Regions from separate parts of the Homo sapiens genome. Here regions 1 and 2 are each reported to be linked to region 3. Evidence: microRNA targets listed by miRTarBase, many of them from high-throughput screens and not tested one by one. Region 3 holds a microRNA gene; each other region holds the end of a gene's coding sequence.

Region 1 (5,622 bases), not on the chromosome of region 3:
TATACCACATGCTGACGGTTAGGAAGGCAGATTTGGTTCAGATTGTCTGGAGAAGGCCGCCCAGGGGGGAAGCCATCCAGCCGGTGGCCCCAGCCCCCTTGGGACCGGTCCTGTTGGCAGTGCTGGGCTGCATTCCAGGACTCAGGTTCTGGATGGCTCTGGTCCCCAAATGGAGCTGGCGTTCCTGGAATGGGGAAAACAGTGGGAAGCGGGGACATGTGAAGGAACCCACAAAGGCTGGATGAGCTGGGAGGATTGAAAGAATCTGGGGTGGAGGAGAAAGGGTTGGGAGGATATAGTGGAAATGAGAAAGAACAATTTGTGGCTCTTCCTTTTAAAATAACTGAAAGGAAAAGAGAAGCGAGGTGTGAAAGGTGTCAGCTCACAGCCTGCCCCCACCTCCTCCTGCTTCTCAAGGCTCGGGCTTCCTGCTCCTCTCCCCAGGGTCCTGAGCACTAAGGCAGGAGGATGGACAGACCAAAGCTGTCACTCACCCTCTCTCGGCATGGAATGGATGATTATCTCCTCCTGATATGGAAGAGGTGGGTCTACTGGGTAGAAGGAGTAAGCAAAAGCCATGTTGGGATGGCCATCTCTAGCAGAGAAAGCCTGGCTAGTTTACATGCACAAAGAAGAACTCAGCAGAGAAGCAAGTGAAAATAGATGCTATTTTTGCACATCTAATCACATAACTTTCTAAAACAGGTATATCCTCAATTTTACAGATGAAGAAACAAAGGCTTGGAGAAGTATGTAACTTACCCAAGGTTATACAACTGGTGAGTGGCAGAGCCCACCGTCTTGTCTGCCCCGAAGCCCATGCTCTGGGGGAAGGCCATGAGGTAAAGGTGGGTAAAGAAGAGAGGGAGCTGCTTACCTTCCTTCTGTTCATTGGGGTGCTGGAGAGAGGGCAGCTCTTTTTGGAGGGGGACAGCTTCCTGAGGGAGAGGGGGACCCACTGCAAGATAGGGGTGAGGGCACCAAGGAGCAGGGATCAGCCTGGTGTCAACAGGATCCATAGTGGGATAGAGGTGAGGGAGGGTGGGCAAGCGCTCACCTTCCTTTTCAGCAGGGAGTTGGGCAGGTAGCAGCTTTTCCTGTTGGAGAGGGGTGGCCTCCTGAGAGGGAGGGGGCTGCACTATAGAAGGGGGAATGTGTGAGCAGCCCACCCTTTCTCCTAGCCAGGGCTGGGAGTGGGGGCGAGGGCCTCTTCCCTCCTTTCCACCTGAAAAGTGGGATATAGGCCAGATTAGAAACCTGGAGGGTCACTGAGGAGGGCATGGGATGGTGACCTTACCTTGACTCTGTCCCTCAAAGGGAGGGCCATGCTGAGAGGAGTCAGGGTGATCCATGGGGAGGCTTCGGGATAGGGGTGGGGAGGGGGGAGCTGCGTAGCCAACTAGAAGCAAGAGGGGAGACATCAGAGCCCACAGTGCCTCCTGGAGTCCCAATCCCATGCTGCTCCCCCAAACTCTTACCTTCTTGAAAGTGCTCTGGCCTCAGCTGCCTCTGTCCTGTAGCCGTGAAGCCTGGAGGGAAGAAGGGCAAGTCAGGGGCCACTGGGAGGGCCTTCCCTGGACTTCAGCAAGGGATGGGGAGGCTGTGGAGATCAAGAGTGTAGGACAGACAAGCAAGACACGAGATGCCCCTCTGTATTCACCTGCCCCGTGTCCCCTAATCCTCTCCCAGCCCCAACACACCTAGACATGACCAGCTGGGTTCTGAGAAAGCCTGTGGCGGTCTGATAGCTCCACCTCTACTGGCTCAGAGGTTGGGCCTAAAGGGAGTATGGCATACGGGATTGGGGAGGGAGGCCCTCATTTCCTCTGCCAGTCTTTCCCTCAGGGCTGTGGGTTGTCCTCCCCAGTCTCTGCTGGGATGCGTCTCTAGCTTTCAGAGGAAAAAGTCTGGACCTTGAGCTGGTTGGAGCCTACCCAATCCACCTCCTCCACCCACCCTCCTACTCCAGGCCCTTGAAACATCTTTAGGCCTTTGGTTAAGGAGGCTTCCTGAAGGTTGAGTGCTTCCCCTTCAGCCAGTCTCAGCTCCGCCTTAGTTTAGGTCTCAATTTAGGGCCTGGGGGACTGGGACAGGCACAGGGAAGGGTCACTTGTAGGTGATCTGCAGACACAAAAGACCAGGAGCTGGGAAGAATGATGGCATGGGGCTTCACAGAGAAGTGGACAGATTTGCTGACATCCTCAGCAGCTTCCTGCAGGAGTGCCCTGGGTGGTTTTTTTCCTTTTCTTTTCCTTTTTTTCTTAGTTTCCACCCATAGCATTGAGGGGTTCCTGTTTTGTTCAGGCATCAAAGCAGATAAAGAATGTGTTTGTGCTGGATGGAGGGTGGGTCTGTGGATGGACACCCCTCAACTCCTCTAATCAGACAGGGAGTCAGTCGAGGCTTGCTGGGCCAGCAATCCGGTTTTGAGCAGCCTGGGGGCCCCTTTTCCCTCCCTTGCCTCTCCCACCAGCCACCTCCCTACATCCTCATCAGCAGGAGACCCTCACTCTGTGAACCCACCCCCCACTCAGTTGTCTATTTGACTGGGATTCTGTGTTTCTTGGCAGCAGTTTCTAGGAACCCCTCTCCTTCTGTGCCCCTGCTCTCTGCCTCCTTGGTTAAAGGCTCCACTGGCCTAGGCCCACTTTGGGCCTGCTCAGAAAAGGAAAGCCAAACGGAGAATCACTCTGCTAGTGATGAGCCGTCTGGGATGCCTGGACCCAGACCCCTGCCATGCAAGCCCAGACCCCCTCCTAAGTGCTGATCCCCCAACTCACCTCCCTCAGAGGCAGCAGAAGCAACAGCCAAATAGGTCAAGACCAAGGCTGCTCTGGCTGTGGTCCCCATCCTGGGGCAACTGACCACTGGACACTCAGAGGTGGGTCCTCTCAGGCAAGTCTGGATGTGAAGGGCCGGCCACTGAAGCTTGTCTGGTGGCTGTTACGGTTGTGAGCTTCAGGACCAGCTCTTCTTTTATAATTGTCTGGTGTGATCTCCCGCCCTCCTCAGCTTCCTGCCATGACTCAGTCCCAGCTGCTCCTCCTCTGGAAGCCACTCCTCCCAAAGTCACCCTGAAGCCTCCTCAGAGGATTGAGAAGAATGGGACTGATTAGAGGAGAACATTCTTATGACCTTCAAGAGAAACTGATTCAGAGAATCCAGGAGCAAGAGGTGTTTGAGCCCCTAGTTTGTGCCTCAGTTTCTCCATCTACAGGCTGCCTTCTGTGGAGAGGGGATCTGCCAACTCATGAACTGGGGTTGGGGAAACAGGGCACAAAGGAGTTTACAGCGGGGAGCAGGAAACCTATCCAAGGGATCTCCCCTACCAGTGTGAGGTCTGGACTGTCCCTTTTCAATTTCCCTAACTCTCTGGGACAAAAAAGAGGGAGACAAAGTGGAACATCCTTTTATCCCACCTCTCCAGAGTCAGAGATGAAGACATATGACCAGCAGCTTCCAGTTTGTATTTATTTATTTATTTATTTATTTAGAGACAGAGTCTCGCTCTGTCGCCTAGGGGGGTGCAGTGGCGCAATCTCAGCTCACTGCAACCTCTACCTCCCGGGTTCAAGCGATTCTCCTGCCTCAGCCTCCTGAGTAGCTGGGATTACAGGCGTGTGCCACCATGCCCGGCTAATTTTTTGTATTTTTAGTAGAGACAGGGTTTCACCGTGTTAGCCAGGGTGGTCTTGATCTCCTGACCTCATGATCCGTCCGCCTCAGCCTCCCAGAGTGCTGGGATTACAGGCATGAGCCACTGCGCCTGGCCCAATTTATTTTTTTTTGTAGTTTCATTCTCCTCACATCCAAACAGCTACAGCTTCCCTCCTTTTGTGGGGTCCCCAAACCAAGTCTCTTTTCAGGAGAGCAGACATGTGCCTCCACACAGTTCTGAAGTTCTGGGGGCTCCACATTGTCAGCTGGGTTGGGGTCTCCCATGTGAGGGAGGCTGATGGCACTCGCAGGTTTTTGCCTCATCTATGTACAAAGGCTCAGAAAATTTCTTCGGCATTTGGGACCCTCGTGTTCTGTAGCTCCACCAGTCGCTGCACAGCCTCAGGCAAGTCCCACTCCCCAAGGCGACGATTATCTCGAGTCCGAATGTTCACTGTTCTCTTACTTTGCTCTTTCTGGCCAACCACTGCAGGTAGAGGAAGTTTGGGAACCTCAGGGCAAATTCACCCACATGGAACAGTTTCTTTTGCTCTGCAGAAACTTGAGAGACCTAAATCTTTAGGAAGGGTGGGAGCAGAGCCCAGATATGGTTCACAGAAAGGAAGTATTCAGCTGTGTCTGCTAATACTAAATGACCAGTCCTGCTCATCCTGAGGAGACAAGGAAGTGCTTCAGTCCCCGCAGGCCTTATCGCTTCTGGTCAAGAGCCCCAGGGTCAGAGACATAAGAGTCAAGCAGAGAAAGACAAACACTGAGAACCCCACAGAGAGAAACTGTGTGTGTGTGTGTGTGTGTGTGTGTGTGTGTCAGAGACATTAGAGTCAAGCAGAGAAAGACAAACAATGAGAACCCCACAGAGAGAAACTGTGTGTGTGTGTGTGTGTGTGTGTGTGTGCGCGCGCGTGTCTGAAGGGGGTATTAGAGCAAGTGGAAGGTGGCAGGAGTGGTGTGGCCTTCACACTGCCCCGCCTCCCCCCAACCACTCTGACCCTTAGAACAGTTTCCTCTCATCAGTCCCACTCTGGCTCTTGGTGTCTGTTAGGGCTGGATTCACAGAGTGAGGGGCCTCTGCTGAGGAGGATGTATGCAGGGGCTGACTGGGCGGTAAGGGAGGGAAAGGGGCCATGTACAAGTCCCTGGGATTGCAGCACAGCTTGCTCTGGGTGCTTGTAGGGAGAGTGGGGTGTGCAAAACTCAAGAATCAGGTAATCTGGCTGAGGAGTTTCTGCTCCTCACCTTTGAGATAGAGCCCTGAACCCTGGAAAATGAAAAAGGGAGCATGGCAGTGCCAGAATTTTCTCCCTAAGGCCTTTCTCCTCATCCCTTAGGGCTGATTCCATCTAGGTCTAAAATAAACAAGGGTAATTAACGCTGTATTAACCCTCCCGTCCCTTTCTCTCTGATGCTCCCTTGGTTAATTAACCTAACAGACACCAACAGCTAGAGTGGAGTTAAAAAGAGGAAAACTATTTTGAGTGTCAGAAGTGGTTATGGGGAGGGCAGGGCAATGTGAAGGAACACAGGGCCCAAATGAGTCAGGTGTCCTGAATCCTGGCTCCTACCTGCTCAGGTAATGAGCCCCAATTAACCCAAATATGCATTACCAGACTTGGTAAACTTAACAGCAAGAATGCAGACGGCAGGTGGGAGAACATTGGCTCTGAGGTTCAGCTTACCAAACTGAAAATTGTAGTGGGCAAGCTGGGCCCGGCGGATTCTCCGGCTGAGGGTCAGTCCAGAGTCTGCATCCAGGTCACTGACCAGTCCTGCAGCCCGCAGGCTCTGCTGTGCCTGCAACAGAGGTTTGGTGACAGGAAGTTAATTTACTGGAAAGTTAAGGAGCTAGAACAGTCTGATGCTCTTTTCCCTCAATGCCCCCATCTGTTCCTCCTTTCCCTGCCTCGGGGCTCTCCACTTCTTACCAGCAACCTCTCCTCATTTCAT
Region 2 (5,622 bases), not on the chromosome of region 3:
CAGGCGTGCTGGCGGGCGCCTGTAATCCCAGCTACTTGGGAGGCTGAGGCAGGAGAATCGCTTGAACCCAGGAGGCAGAGGTTGTAGTGAGCCGAGATCATGCCACTGTACTCCAGCCTGGGTGACAGAATGAGATTCCATCTCAAAAAAAAAAAAAAAAGAAAGAAGGAAAGGAAGGAAGGAGGGAGGGAGGGAAAAGGAAGAAAGAAAAAAGAAAAGAAACAGAGCAGTTATGCCCCTTCATTCCCAATTCCCTTTTTTGAGGTCCTCCATGTCTCACCCTGACTTCCCTATTCCCTGCTAGGGTGGGCAGCTGCTGTGACCTTTCATCCCAGGGCTGGGGCTGAGCTGAGGCGCTTCCGGAAGCGGCCAGACACCTTCAGCCTGGGCGTGTGTAATGGCTGTCAACTGCTGGCTCTGCTCGGCTGGGTGGGAGGCGACCCCAATGAGGATGCTGCAGAGATGGGCCCTGACTCCCAGCCAGCCCGGCCAGGCCTTCTGCTACGCCACAACCTGTCTGGGCGCTACGAGTCTCGCTGGGCCAGCGTGCGTGTGGGGCCTGGGCCAGCCCTGATGCTGCGAGGGATGGAGGGCGCCGTGCTGCCCGTGTGGAGTGCGCACGGGGAAGGTCAGGCCCAAGGAAGGCTGGGGGAGGGCCCGAGGGTTGGGGGCAAGGGTGGGCATGAAGGACCTTGGCTCTCACTTCCCTCCTCCTTCCATCCCAGGTTACGTAGCATTTTCTTCTCCGGAACTCCAAGCTCAGATTGAGGCCAGGGGCTTGGCTCCACTGCACTGGGCTGATGATGACGGGAACCCCACAGAGCAGTACCCTCTGAATCCCAATGGGTCCCCAGGGGGCGTGGCTGGCATCTGCTCCTGTGATGGCCGCCACCTGGCTGTCATGCCTCACCCTGAGCGGGCCGTTAGGCCTTGGCAGTGGGCATGGCGACCCCCTCCATTTGATACTCTGACCACCTCCCCCTGGCTCCAGCTCTTTATCAATGCCCGAAACTGGACCCTGGAAGGGAGCTGCTGACTGGCCACAGGGGCTCACCTGGGCCCCATGGCTTTTCACCTAAGTGGGTCCTGCCCCCTCCCCCATGACCTTCAGGAGCACCCCATATTATTTCCAAAAATATCTTGGACAGACAAGGACCAAAATGCCAAAATCTCAGCGGACTCGATAATCTGCCTGCTGATGTTCCTTCTGTGGCTGTGTCTATTTTCAGTTCTGCTCTAACATGGCATGCCCTTTCTCAGCCCAGGAAACAGCATGTGGTTCAGAGAAAAGAGCGACAAGGAAAAGTTAGGACTCCTGAGGTCCGAACAGGGGCTTCTGTTGCCCACTTCACAACACCCAGTGATCACCGGTGTGCAATTGCCTCCTTGGCTCTGAGGGATGTTTTGCGCTCCCTTTTCTCATCATTGGGGTTAGCGGGTGCAGACAAATTCAGCAATAGTATGCAGATCAGCCCCTCACCACCTCATTGTTCTCATCTGGAACTGAAACTTTCTGGATTTCTCTTGAAGTGCTACACTGCACTGAATGTAAGGAATTGTTGCTTGTGGAAGTTTCTCAGCGTTTCTGGCTGTCTTAGGGCTGGCCTCAGAACCCAGCATTCCTGTTATTTGCTTCTAAATTAGCAGCTCTCTTTTTTTTTTTTTTTTTGAGGCAGTCTCACTCTGTCACCCAGGCTGGAGTACAATGGCGTGATCTCGGCCCACTGCAACCTCTGCCTCCTGGGTTCAAGCAATTTTCCTGCCTCAGCCTCCCGAGTAGCTGGGAGTACAGGCACACACCACCACACCCAGCTAATTTTTGTATTTTTAGTAGAGATAGGGTTTCACCATGTCTCCCAGGCTGGTCTCAAACTCCTAACCTCAAGTGATTCGCCTGCCTCGGCCTCCCAAAGTGCTGGGATTACAGGTGGGAGCCACTACAGCTGGCCCAGCAGCTCTGTTTCTGATAGAGGTGGTTGGGGCTCTCATCCCTAGATCCTAACCCTTTAGTATGCTGGAATTCTACTCTTCACTTACTGCATTGACTGTTGTTGATTAGTTATTATTGCAAAGCACTGTCACCGGCCTCAGGGAGTTTATGTGTAATAGAATTAAAAATAATAGCTGTGTATAACACTTAGCTCAAGCCACGCATGTGTGAGGCATTTGGTATGTATCTGAATTAATTCTCACTAAAATTCAGCAAAGGACTTGATAGCCCCTCCCCGCCTTTTCAATAAAGGATGAATGAAGGTTGACTGCATTGCCTGGGGTCCACAGATGGTGAGGGGGGCTGGGCGCACCCATACTACATCTGCTTCCCGCCATCCTGCAGTCTTACTTCCTGGAGGCAGTGTGTTGAGACTTTGTGCTGGCAGCTGTCTGTTGCTTCCTTTGCTCACAGGACTGTGGATAGAGGTCCCTTCCTCATGACTGTTCTGTTGTACACCTCAAGTCAGTTGGCTCCCTAGAATGTTCAACATCTTGATAAAAGGAGTTTGCCTGAGAATGGAGACTATAATCCCAGATCCCTGAGGGCTAGGAGAGCTGGGTGGGGGCGCTGAGCACTTCTGTGTGCTCCTGGTAGAGTAGCCACCCTGAGAAAAAACTGATAATAATGAAACAATGTTAAATGATGGCTATGGGGAAAACAACTATTTCAGAGATTTTTCTCATTGCTTTGCAAAGCGACCTACCCTGAGCAGTATGGGACTCCTCCGGATCATTTTTGACATTTGAATGTTCTTTCCTGACCCTTGGAAAGGATATATGTATGTCTTTCAAATTTATAGTATCGAACATACAATTTGGGGGCTGGTACCAAGGGTTAGATATTAAGTTTATTAAGTGCTTGATGCAAAAGTCAAAGGATGGCATGGGAGGTAACCTGGTTGGCTGTGATAAGTAAACTCGTGGATTTTGAAGGGGGAGCAGTTTCTGGTTTGGGTCGCAGTGGCCAAGTAAGACCCACCCTCCTCAGACACTATCAAGACCAAGTCCACTGGCTTTTCATCCGTGTTTTCATCCAGTAACCAAATAACCCTGTCCTTGCTGACCCCCACCCAGCTCCATTCCCACTCACCCACTCCCAAGGGCCCTCTGGTGAACCTTCCAGGCTAGCTCTCTGCTCCCTCCTTGCCTTCATGGAAAACCAGCTATCCTCTGAGAGCCACTTCTGCAGCCCCTCCAAGTGGTGGCTTTTCTTCTCAAACCTCAACCTCACATATCTCATCTTCCCCAGGCTGGGGAGTCGGGGTCCTCGTACCACTGCCAGACTGTTCACCCAGTTCAAAGAAAACCCTGCCCGTTGCAGGCTCATGCCATTCTACTACATCCCTTTCATCCAGTTCTTTGTGTTCTACTGACTTCCCCAGCGCTTCCTTTGGGAGAAGGTGCCAATTCTTCAATAGTTGATTCCTCTCTAGAAATACAATGTTCCTGCCAGGTGCGGTGGCTCATGCCTGTAATTCCAACACTTTGGGAGGCCAAGGCTGGTAGATCACCTGAGTTTGAGACCAGCCTGGCCAACATGGTGAACCCCGTCTCTACTAAAAATACAAAAATTAGCTGGGTGTGGTGGTGTGTGCCAATAATCCCAGCTTCTCGGGAGGCTGAGGCAGAAGAATCGCTTGAACCCAGGAGGCGGAGGTTGCAGTGAGCCGAGATCACGCCACTGCACTTCAGCCTGGGCAACAGAGTCTGTCCCAAAAAAAAAAAAAAAAAGAAAAAGAAAGAAAGAAATAGAATGTTCCAGGGCCGGGCGTGGTGGCTCACACCTGTAATCCCAGCACTTTGGGAGGCCGAGGTGGGCAGATCATGAGGTCAGGAGATCGAGACCATCTTGGCTAACACAGTGAAACCCCGTCTCTACTAAAAGTACAAAAAAAATTAGCCAGGCGAGGTGGCGGGCGCCTGTAGTCCCAGCTACTCGGGAGGCTGAGGCAGGAGAATGGCGTGAACCCGGGAGGCGGAGCTTGCAGTGAGCGGACGTTGCGCCACTGCACTCCAGCCTGGGCGACAGAGTGAGACTGTGTCTCAAAAAAAAAAAAAAGAAATAGAATGTTCCAGTATTTTAGCTGGGGTTGTGGCTGCTGAAAATAAAGATGACATCTCCCAGCTTCCCTCCCAGTTATGATTAAATTGTGGCCAATGGTAGAGAAAATGATGTATACAATTTGCAAGTGTTCTTACAAGAAGGGTACATTTTCCCCTTTATCCATTCTTGCTTCCTATTGTTTGGAATGCAGACACGACAGCTGGAAGTTCAGTAGCCATACTGAAGTAGCTTTGGGAATTGGTACCATGCAGAGCAACAAGATAAGAGGAAGGCTCTTCCTCTTATCTACTTGGGAGGCTAAGGTGGGAGGATCACTTGAGCCCAGGTGGTTGAGGCTGCAGTGAACTGTGATCATACCACTGCACTCCAGCCTGGGCAACAGAGCCAGATCCTGTCTCAAAAAAGAAAAAAAGATCAAAGGAGACTGGTTCTTCCAACACTGAGGAGTGCCATGAGGACAAGATAACACTGAATGTCTTGAGTGTAGGAAATGAACTTGTGTCTTGGTTTTTGCTTTTGTTTTTCATTGAGACAGAGTCTCTCGCTCTGTCTCCCGGGCTGGAATACTGGAGTACAGTGGTGTGATCTCCGCTTGCTGCAACCTCTGCCTCCTGGGTTTAAGCGATCCTCCCACCCCAGCCTTCTGAGTAGCTGGGATTACAGGCACGTGCCACCATGCCCAGCTAATTTTTGTATTTTTAGTAGAGACGGGGTTTCGCCATGTTGGCCAGGCTGTTCTTGAACTCCTGACCTGAAGTGATCTGCCTGCCTCCATCTCCCACAGTGCTGGGATTATAGGCATAAACCAAAGCGCCAGCCTATCTTGTTTAAGCACTATTAATTTTGGTGTTTTCCATCCCTTGTAACTAAACCTTACCCTATTCAACCACTCCTAACTCGCTCTCATTCTTTAAGGGTATTAGGCCCTGGTTCCCTGTCTTGTGCTTCACTTCAGCCCCTTCTGTTATCCTGTATCCATGTCAGTGACCATCCAACACTCTGAACTTTTCTACAGTGACCTTCATTCCACCTCAGCTAACTATCCCACTTGGATTTTATCACCCAGGATCGGCTCTATCTCCAAACTTATTTATTCAGGCGTCCTGTTTCCAACCATAAGGCTCTATCTCCAAACTTATTTATGCAGGTGTCCTGTTTCCTTCCAACTTTTTTTCTTTTTGAGATGGAGTCTCACTCTGTCGCCCAGACTGGAGGGCAGTGGTGCGATCTCAGCTCACTGCAACCTCCACCTCCTGGGTTCAAGCGATTCTCCTGCCTCAGCCTCCCAAGTAGCTGGGATTACAGGCATGTGCCACCATACCTGGCTAGTTTTTGTATTTTTAGTAGAGATGGGGTTTCACCATGTTGGCCAGGATGGTCTCAAACTCCTGACCTCAAGTGATCTACCCACCTTGGCCTCCCAAAGTGCTGGGATGACAGGCATAAGCCACCATGCCTGGCCCTTTCCTTCCATCTTTCTTCTTTATCCACAATACTCTGAGATTTCAAAGTAATTAGGACCTCCAGTGCAATAATTACTTTACCCCAATCCATTGCTCCTTTTC
Region 3 (4,512 bases):
AGCCTGGGGAGTCAGGGGCTGCTCTGAGCCCCACCAGCCACCTCTCTCTTGTCCTGGGCAGTCCTTGGAGCCTCTGGCACCCCAGCTGCGGTCCTGGTGGAGCTCACTGCTGGCTTCCTCCCAGGCTGTGTCCTCTGACCAGCCCCCGCCTCTGAGCCCGGGCCTGAGTTTGGGTGTCTGAAGACCCAGAGGGGCTCTGGCAAGGGACTGGGTTGGGCACGCGTCTTCTTTGCAGCTGGCTCTATGGTTCTGTGGCTTGGCCCTTGGTGACGACCCCCGCCATCCTCCCCGCAATTCCCCGGCTGGCCCCCAGTCAAAAGCATCCTTGGTTTGCTGTGGAATCGCTTTATTCTGAGCTGGTGCTGGGCCCCGGGAGCCGCTGAGCGAGGTGGGTGGACACTGGCCGAGGTCACAGGACCCTGTGGGCGCCATCCCTACTGGGGACGCAGCACTCACTGAAAACCAAGAGGAGTGTGAGGGGGCCCAGCCCACCATGGAGGCTCCTCCACACCCTCAGCTGCCTTAGAGACAGTGGAGCCATGAACCCCGTGGGCTTGGGCAGAGGGTCCTCCCACCCACTGTGCGTAGGGTGGCCTCCCCCACCCCCTTCCCCCAAGAGAGCCCAGGGTGAGGCTCAGGATGGCGGCTTACCAGAAGGATCTTGTGAGCACAGGTGACTAGAAGGGGAGGCAAGACTGGCTGTGAAAAAGGACTGAGCCCCCCAGCACCCCAGGGCCCCACCCACAAGACTCGCCTGCCGTGGGGACAAGACCCCCAGGCCTGACTTTGGGCAGGGGCAGGTGAAGACCCCCTCAGCCTGCCTGACTCCTTCAGGGCGACTGAGTCAGGCAGAAGCCAGAATCAACCCCAGGGTCTCTGTCACCCCATCACGCCCTGTGGGCTCCAGAACTTGCCCCAAGCCTCCCCCGAGGCTGCTCCGGTGGACACTCACGGTCCTTCTGCAGCTGGGCCTGCTACTGTGACAGGAAGCCCAGGCTCCTGCTCCACTTGGTGAAGAGCCCCATGGCCTCCTGGCTGGCTGTCTCCGTCAGACCTGGGGGCACCAGGGCAGTGCAGGGGGAAGCAACCTCTGAGAGCTGGGGAGGGGCCGGGGAGGGGCTGGGAAGGGTCAGGAAGGAGGCCACCTGCCCTGGGATGCTGGCCCCGGTCCTTCCAAAGCCACCTCCAGTGCAGCGAGCCTCAAGGTGGGGGAACTTGGCCTGCATGTGGTCCTGTGCGGCCCACCCACCACACAGCTCCCCACATGGCCCCCGAGCGGCCCACTCACCACACAGCTCCCCATGTGGCCCCAAGCGGCCCACTCACCACACAGCTCCCCACATGGCCCCCGAGCGGCCCACTCACCACACAGCTCCCCACGCGGCCCCCAAGCGGCCCACGCACCACACAGCTCCCAACGTGGGCCCCGAGTGGCCCACGCACCACACAGCTCCCTACGTGGGCCCCGCACAGCACACTTACTGTACAGCTCCACGGTGTTGAAGGGCTCGTCCCCGAACTCCAGCTGAGTGAAGATGATGGCATAGTCTCTGAAGTTGGTGGCCAGCACCCAGAGCTCCAGCACGCCTATTGCTAGGAAACAAAACCCCCCGCCTCAGGGGAGGGCAGCTGCTGTATCCATCCAGGGGCCGCTGAGCTGATGCTGGCCACAGGGACAGAGGGGCCAATTCAAGTGAGAGCCCCCCTCCCCAGGAGACCCCTCCAAGCACACCCAGAGCCCCCAAGCTTTGTCCCCCACCCCCGACCCCACCTGGTGCCAGCATCAAGGGGCTTTCAGACACTGACGGACAGACAGACAAGCACTGCCCCAGCCTGTCCCAGGTGTGAACGAGGAGCGGCTGGGTCACACCAGCCCAGCCCTGTACCTGTAGACAGCCACTAAACAGGCCCCTCGCCCTCTGCACCTATGGGGACCTTGGCTGGACCTCACTGGTGTCTGAGCCTGCTGGGAACAAGGTTCCAATCCTCTGTCCAGGGGCTTCTCTTCACCCTCAGGATGGGCAGCAATCCCAAGACCAGAACCTGTAGCCTCCTGGCTCTCGGGAGCGGAGTCAGCCCTCCGTCCCTGCCCGCAGGGGGCCTGGGGATGCTGCAGGGAAGAACGGCCTGGGTGAGGCCGTGGCCGTCAGACTCACAGGGATTCTCAAACACCCATCCGGAGTTTCGCTTTATCAGGTCCATGACACTCTGGTCACACCCTCCCAGCCTGGAAAAGAAGGGGCCTGTCACCCACTCAGGGTCAAGACCCCGGGGCCCGGTGAGAGGAGACGGAGCTCAGGAGTCCAGGCCAGGCCAGCCAGCAGTGAGGCCAGAGCTTCCATCTTCTGCCAGATGCCCCGATGCCCGGAAACCTGTTCTCGGAGAGTGGACGGCGTGGGAGTCCTGAGAGGGGCGGACACTCCCATTCACTTCCTGAGAGATCCTCAGTGCCAGATCTCCACCAGGAACGCTGAATGCTGCTGAGGACACAACAGGAGACTCGACAGACGGGAGGTTCGCCCGCGACTCGGGGGAAAGATGGGGTGGGGTGGGGGTTCGCCCGTGACTCAGGGGAAGGATGGGGCGGGGTGGGGGTTCGCCCGCAACTCAGGGGAAGGATGGGGCGGGGTGGGGGTTCGCCCGTGACTCAGGGGAAGGATGGGGTGGGGTGGGGGTTCGCCTGCGACTCAGGGGAAGGATGGGGCGGGGTGGGGGTTTGCCTGCGACTCGGGGGAAGGGGCCGGCGCTCCCTAAGTGGTCAGTCCCCAGAGTGAGCAAAACCCAGCAAAGGTGCAATGGTGTTTGCCAAGGAAGGAAACTGAGGCTGAGTCCATGCGGGAGGAACAGCAAGAAGAACTAGGAAAGCCACGTGGGAGCTGCCACCTCAGCCTGGAGCCCCTTGGTCCCAGCTCGCCCTGAGGCCAGGCCTGGCCCGGGGGGTGCAGTGGGGCCCCTGCCCATACCCTGCAGGCGCAGGTGCAGGGGGAAGGCACGCTGGTGAGGAGGGCAGGTTCTTCTCTCTGGGCCCCGTACCTGGCTCAGTGGTTCAGGCCTGGGCTCTGTCGCCAGCCTGCCAGGGGGTAGACACCCACCACGCCACCCAGCAGGCCACTCTTCTGTGAAGGGAGGCGGGCACCGACTCCTGCCCCAGCACGGCTACCCCCACAGCCCGGCTGCCCTGTAGGTGTCCCCTGTGTAGCACGGCCGCCCCACAGCCTGGCCCACCCGACCCCTGCACGCCGCCACCAGCCATGCATGTGGTCGGGTGCGCCTGCCTGAGGCCACAAGGCCAGTCTGGCCAACAGCGTCCATGACCATATTGTTTGGGGATTTATGTTATGAAAGAACCAGTGGTTCTTAGGTCCGAATGCATTATCCTCCTTTAAACAGAATTCCCGAAAAAGGCCTGCTGAGAGGACAGGCTTCCCCAGCTCTGACCACAGCCTGCAGCCCAGATGACCCAGGACAGGGATGCATGAAGGAGCATAGTCAGAGCAGTGCCCGCCGCGGTATTGAAGGTGGGAGTGCCACCTGGAGGCCCCAGGGACACAGATGTGAGTAGCTGGGCAGAGGGCTGGTGGCTCTGCACAGAGCCCAGTGGGAAAAGTGACGGGGGTGCAGAGGGGCCGTGGGAAGCCCCCAGGCCGCGGTGCCCGGGAGCAGATGTGCAAAGTACATGATGTGGCTGAGCCACAGTCCTGCCTGCGGGAAGGCCTGGCAGGACCCGCCCACTCACCCGTGCTGAGAGGACAGCGTCCGCAGGTTGTTTTCTGGAGTGAGGGTCACCACCACCCCCACGACGTTCTTCATGTCCTTCTCCATGGCAAAGCCCTTTTCCCGGGAGGCCACCGCAAGCACGTACCAGGGCCCAAGAAGCTGCATTGAGGCGGCTCCCGTTAGGGCCGCCAGCCCTCCAGCCTCCAGCCTCCAGCCTCCAACCCTCCAGCCTCAGCCTCCAGCCTCCAAACCTCCAGCCTCAGCCTCCACCCTCCAACCATCCAGCCCTCCAGCCTCCAGCCTCCAACCCTCCAGCCTCCAGCCTTCCAGCCCTGCAGCCTCCAGCCTCCACCCTCCAACCATCCAGCCCTCCAGCCTCCAGTCTCCAACCCTCCCGCCCTCCAGCCTCCAACCTTCCAGCCTTGCAGCCTCTAGCCTTCAGTTCTCCAGCCCTCCAGCCTCCAGCTTCCAACCCCCCAGACCTCCAACCCTCCAGCCTCCAGCCTTCCAGCCCTACAGCCTCTAGGCTCCAGCCCTCCAGCCTTCCAACCTCCAGCCTGCAGCCCTGCAGCCTCTAGTCTCCAGCTCTCCAGCCCTCCAGCCTCCAGTTCTGCAGCCCTCCAGCCTCCAGCCCTCCAGCCTCCAGTTCTACAGCCCTCCAGCCTCCAGCCCAGCAGCCTCCAGCCTCCAGTTCTCCAGCCCTACAGCCTCCAGCCCTCCAGCCTCCAGTTCTCCAACCCTACACCCTCCAGCCCTGCAACCTCCAGTCTCCAGCCTCCAATTCTCCAGCCCTCC

What was found. The annotated mature microRNA hsa-miR-6722-5p reads AGGCGCACCCGACCACAUGC and lies in region 3 at 3,254-3,273, opposite strand. An mRNA with a match to its seed (bases 2 to 7 or 8) in the 3' UTR can be bound and repressed. Matches are read on the target gene's strand: a 7mer-m8 pairs with bases 2 to 8, a 7mer-A1 pairs with bases 2 to 7 and ends in A, and an 8mer does both.
Region 1: miRTarBase lists TARS2 as a target of hsa-miR-6722-5p. Seed matches in the 3' UTR shown: 7mer-A1 at 3,531-3,537.
Region 2: miRTarBase lists PFAS as a target of hsa-miR-6722-5p. The part of its 3' UTR that is shown has no 7-base or 8-base seed match.

The regions. Positions count from the first base shown.
Region 1 is chr1:150,505,438-150,511,059 of GRCh38, reverse strand. It overlaps TARS2 (threonyl-tRNA synthetase 2, mitochondrial), which reads right to left. Exons shown (of 18, transcript NM_025150.5): 17 at 5,355-5,469; 18 at 3,458-4,144. The coding sequence ends at 3,996. ECM1 (extracellular matrix protein 1) reads right to left here and starts at 2,951. Exons shown (of 10, transcript NM_004425.4): 1 at 2,781-2,951; 2 at 1,479-1,529; 3 at 1,298-1,399; 4 at 1,058-1,138; 5 at 878-958; 6 at 1-184. The coding sequence starts at 2,850. RefSeq lists an enhancer at 1-566.
Region 2 is chr17:8,268,229-8,273,850 of GRCh38, forward strand. It overlaps PFAS (phosphoribosylformylglycinamidine synthase), which reads left to right. Exons shown (of 28, transcript NM_012393.3): 27 at 305-628; 28 at 726-2,258. The coding sequence ends at 1,036. Among named protein-coding and RNA genes, the nearest start is that of RANGRF, 18 kb to the right of the region's middle.
Region 3 is chr9:136,743,688-136,748,199 of GRCh38, forward strand. MIR6722 (microRNA 6722) reads right to left here and starts at 3,283; the gene lies at 3,206-3,283. LCN6 (lipocalin 6) reads right to left here. Exons shown (of 7, transcript NM_198946.3): 2 at 3,737-3,876; 3 at 2,157-2,227; 4 at 1,483-1,593; 5 at 953-1,054; 6 at 652-677; 7 at 330-455. The coding sequence ends at 975. It overlaps LOC100128593 (a long non-coding RNA gene), which reads left to right and starts at 2,474. Exons shown (of 3, transcript NR_033913.1): 1 at 2,474-2,514; 2 at 3,391-4,512.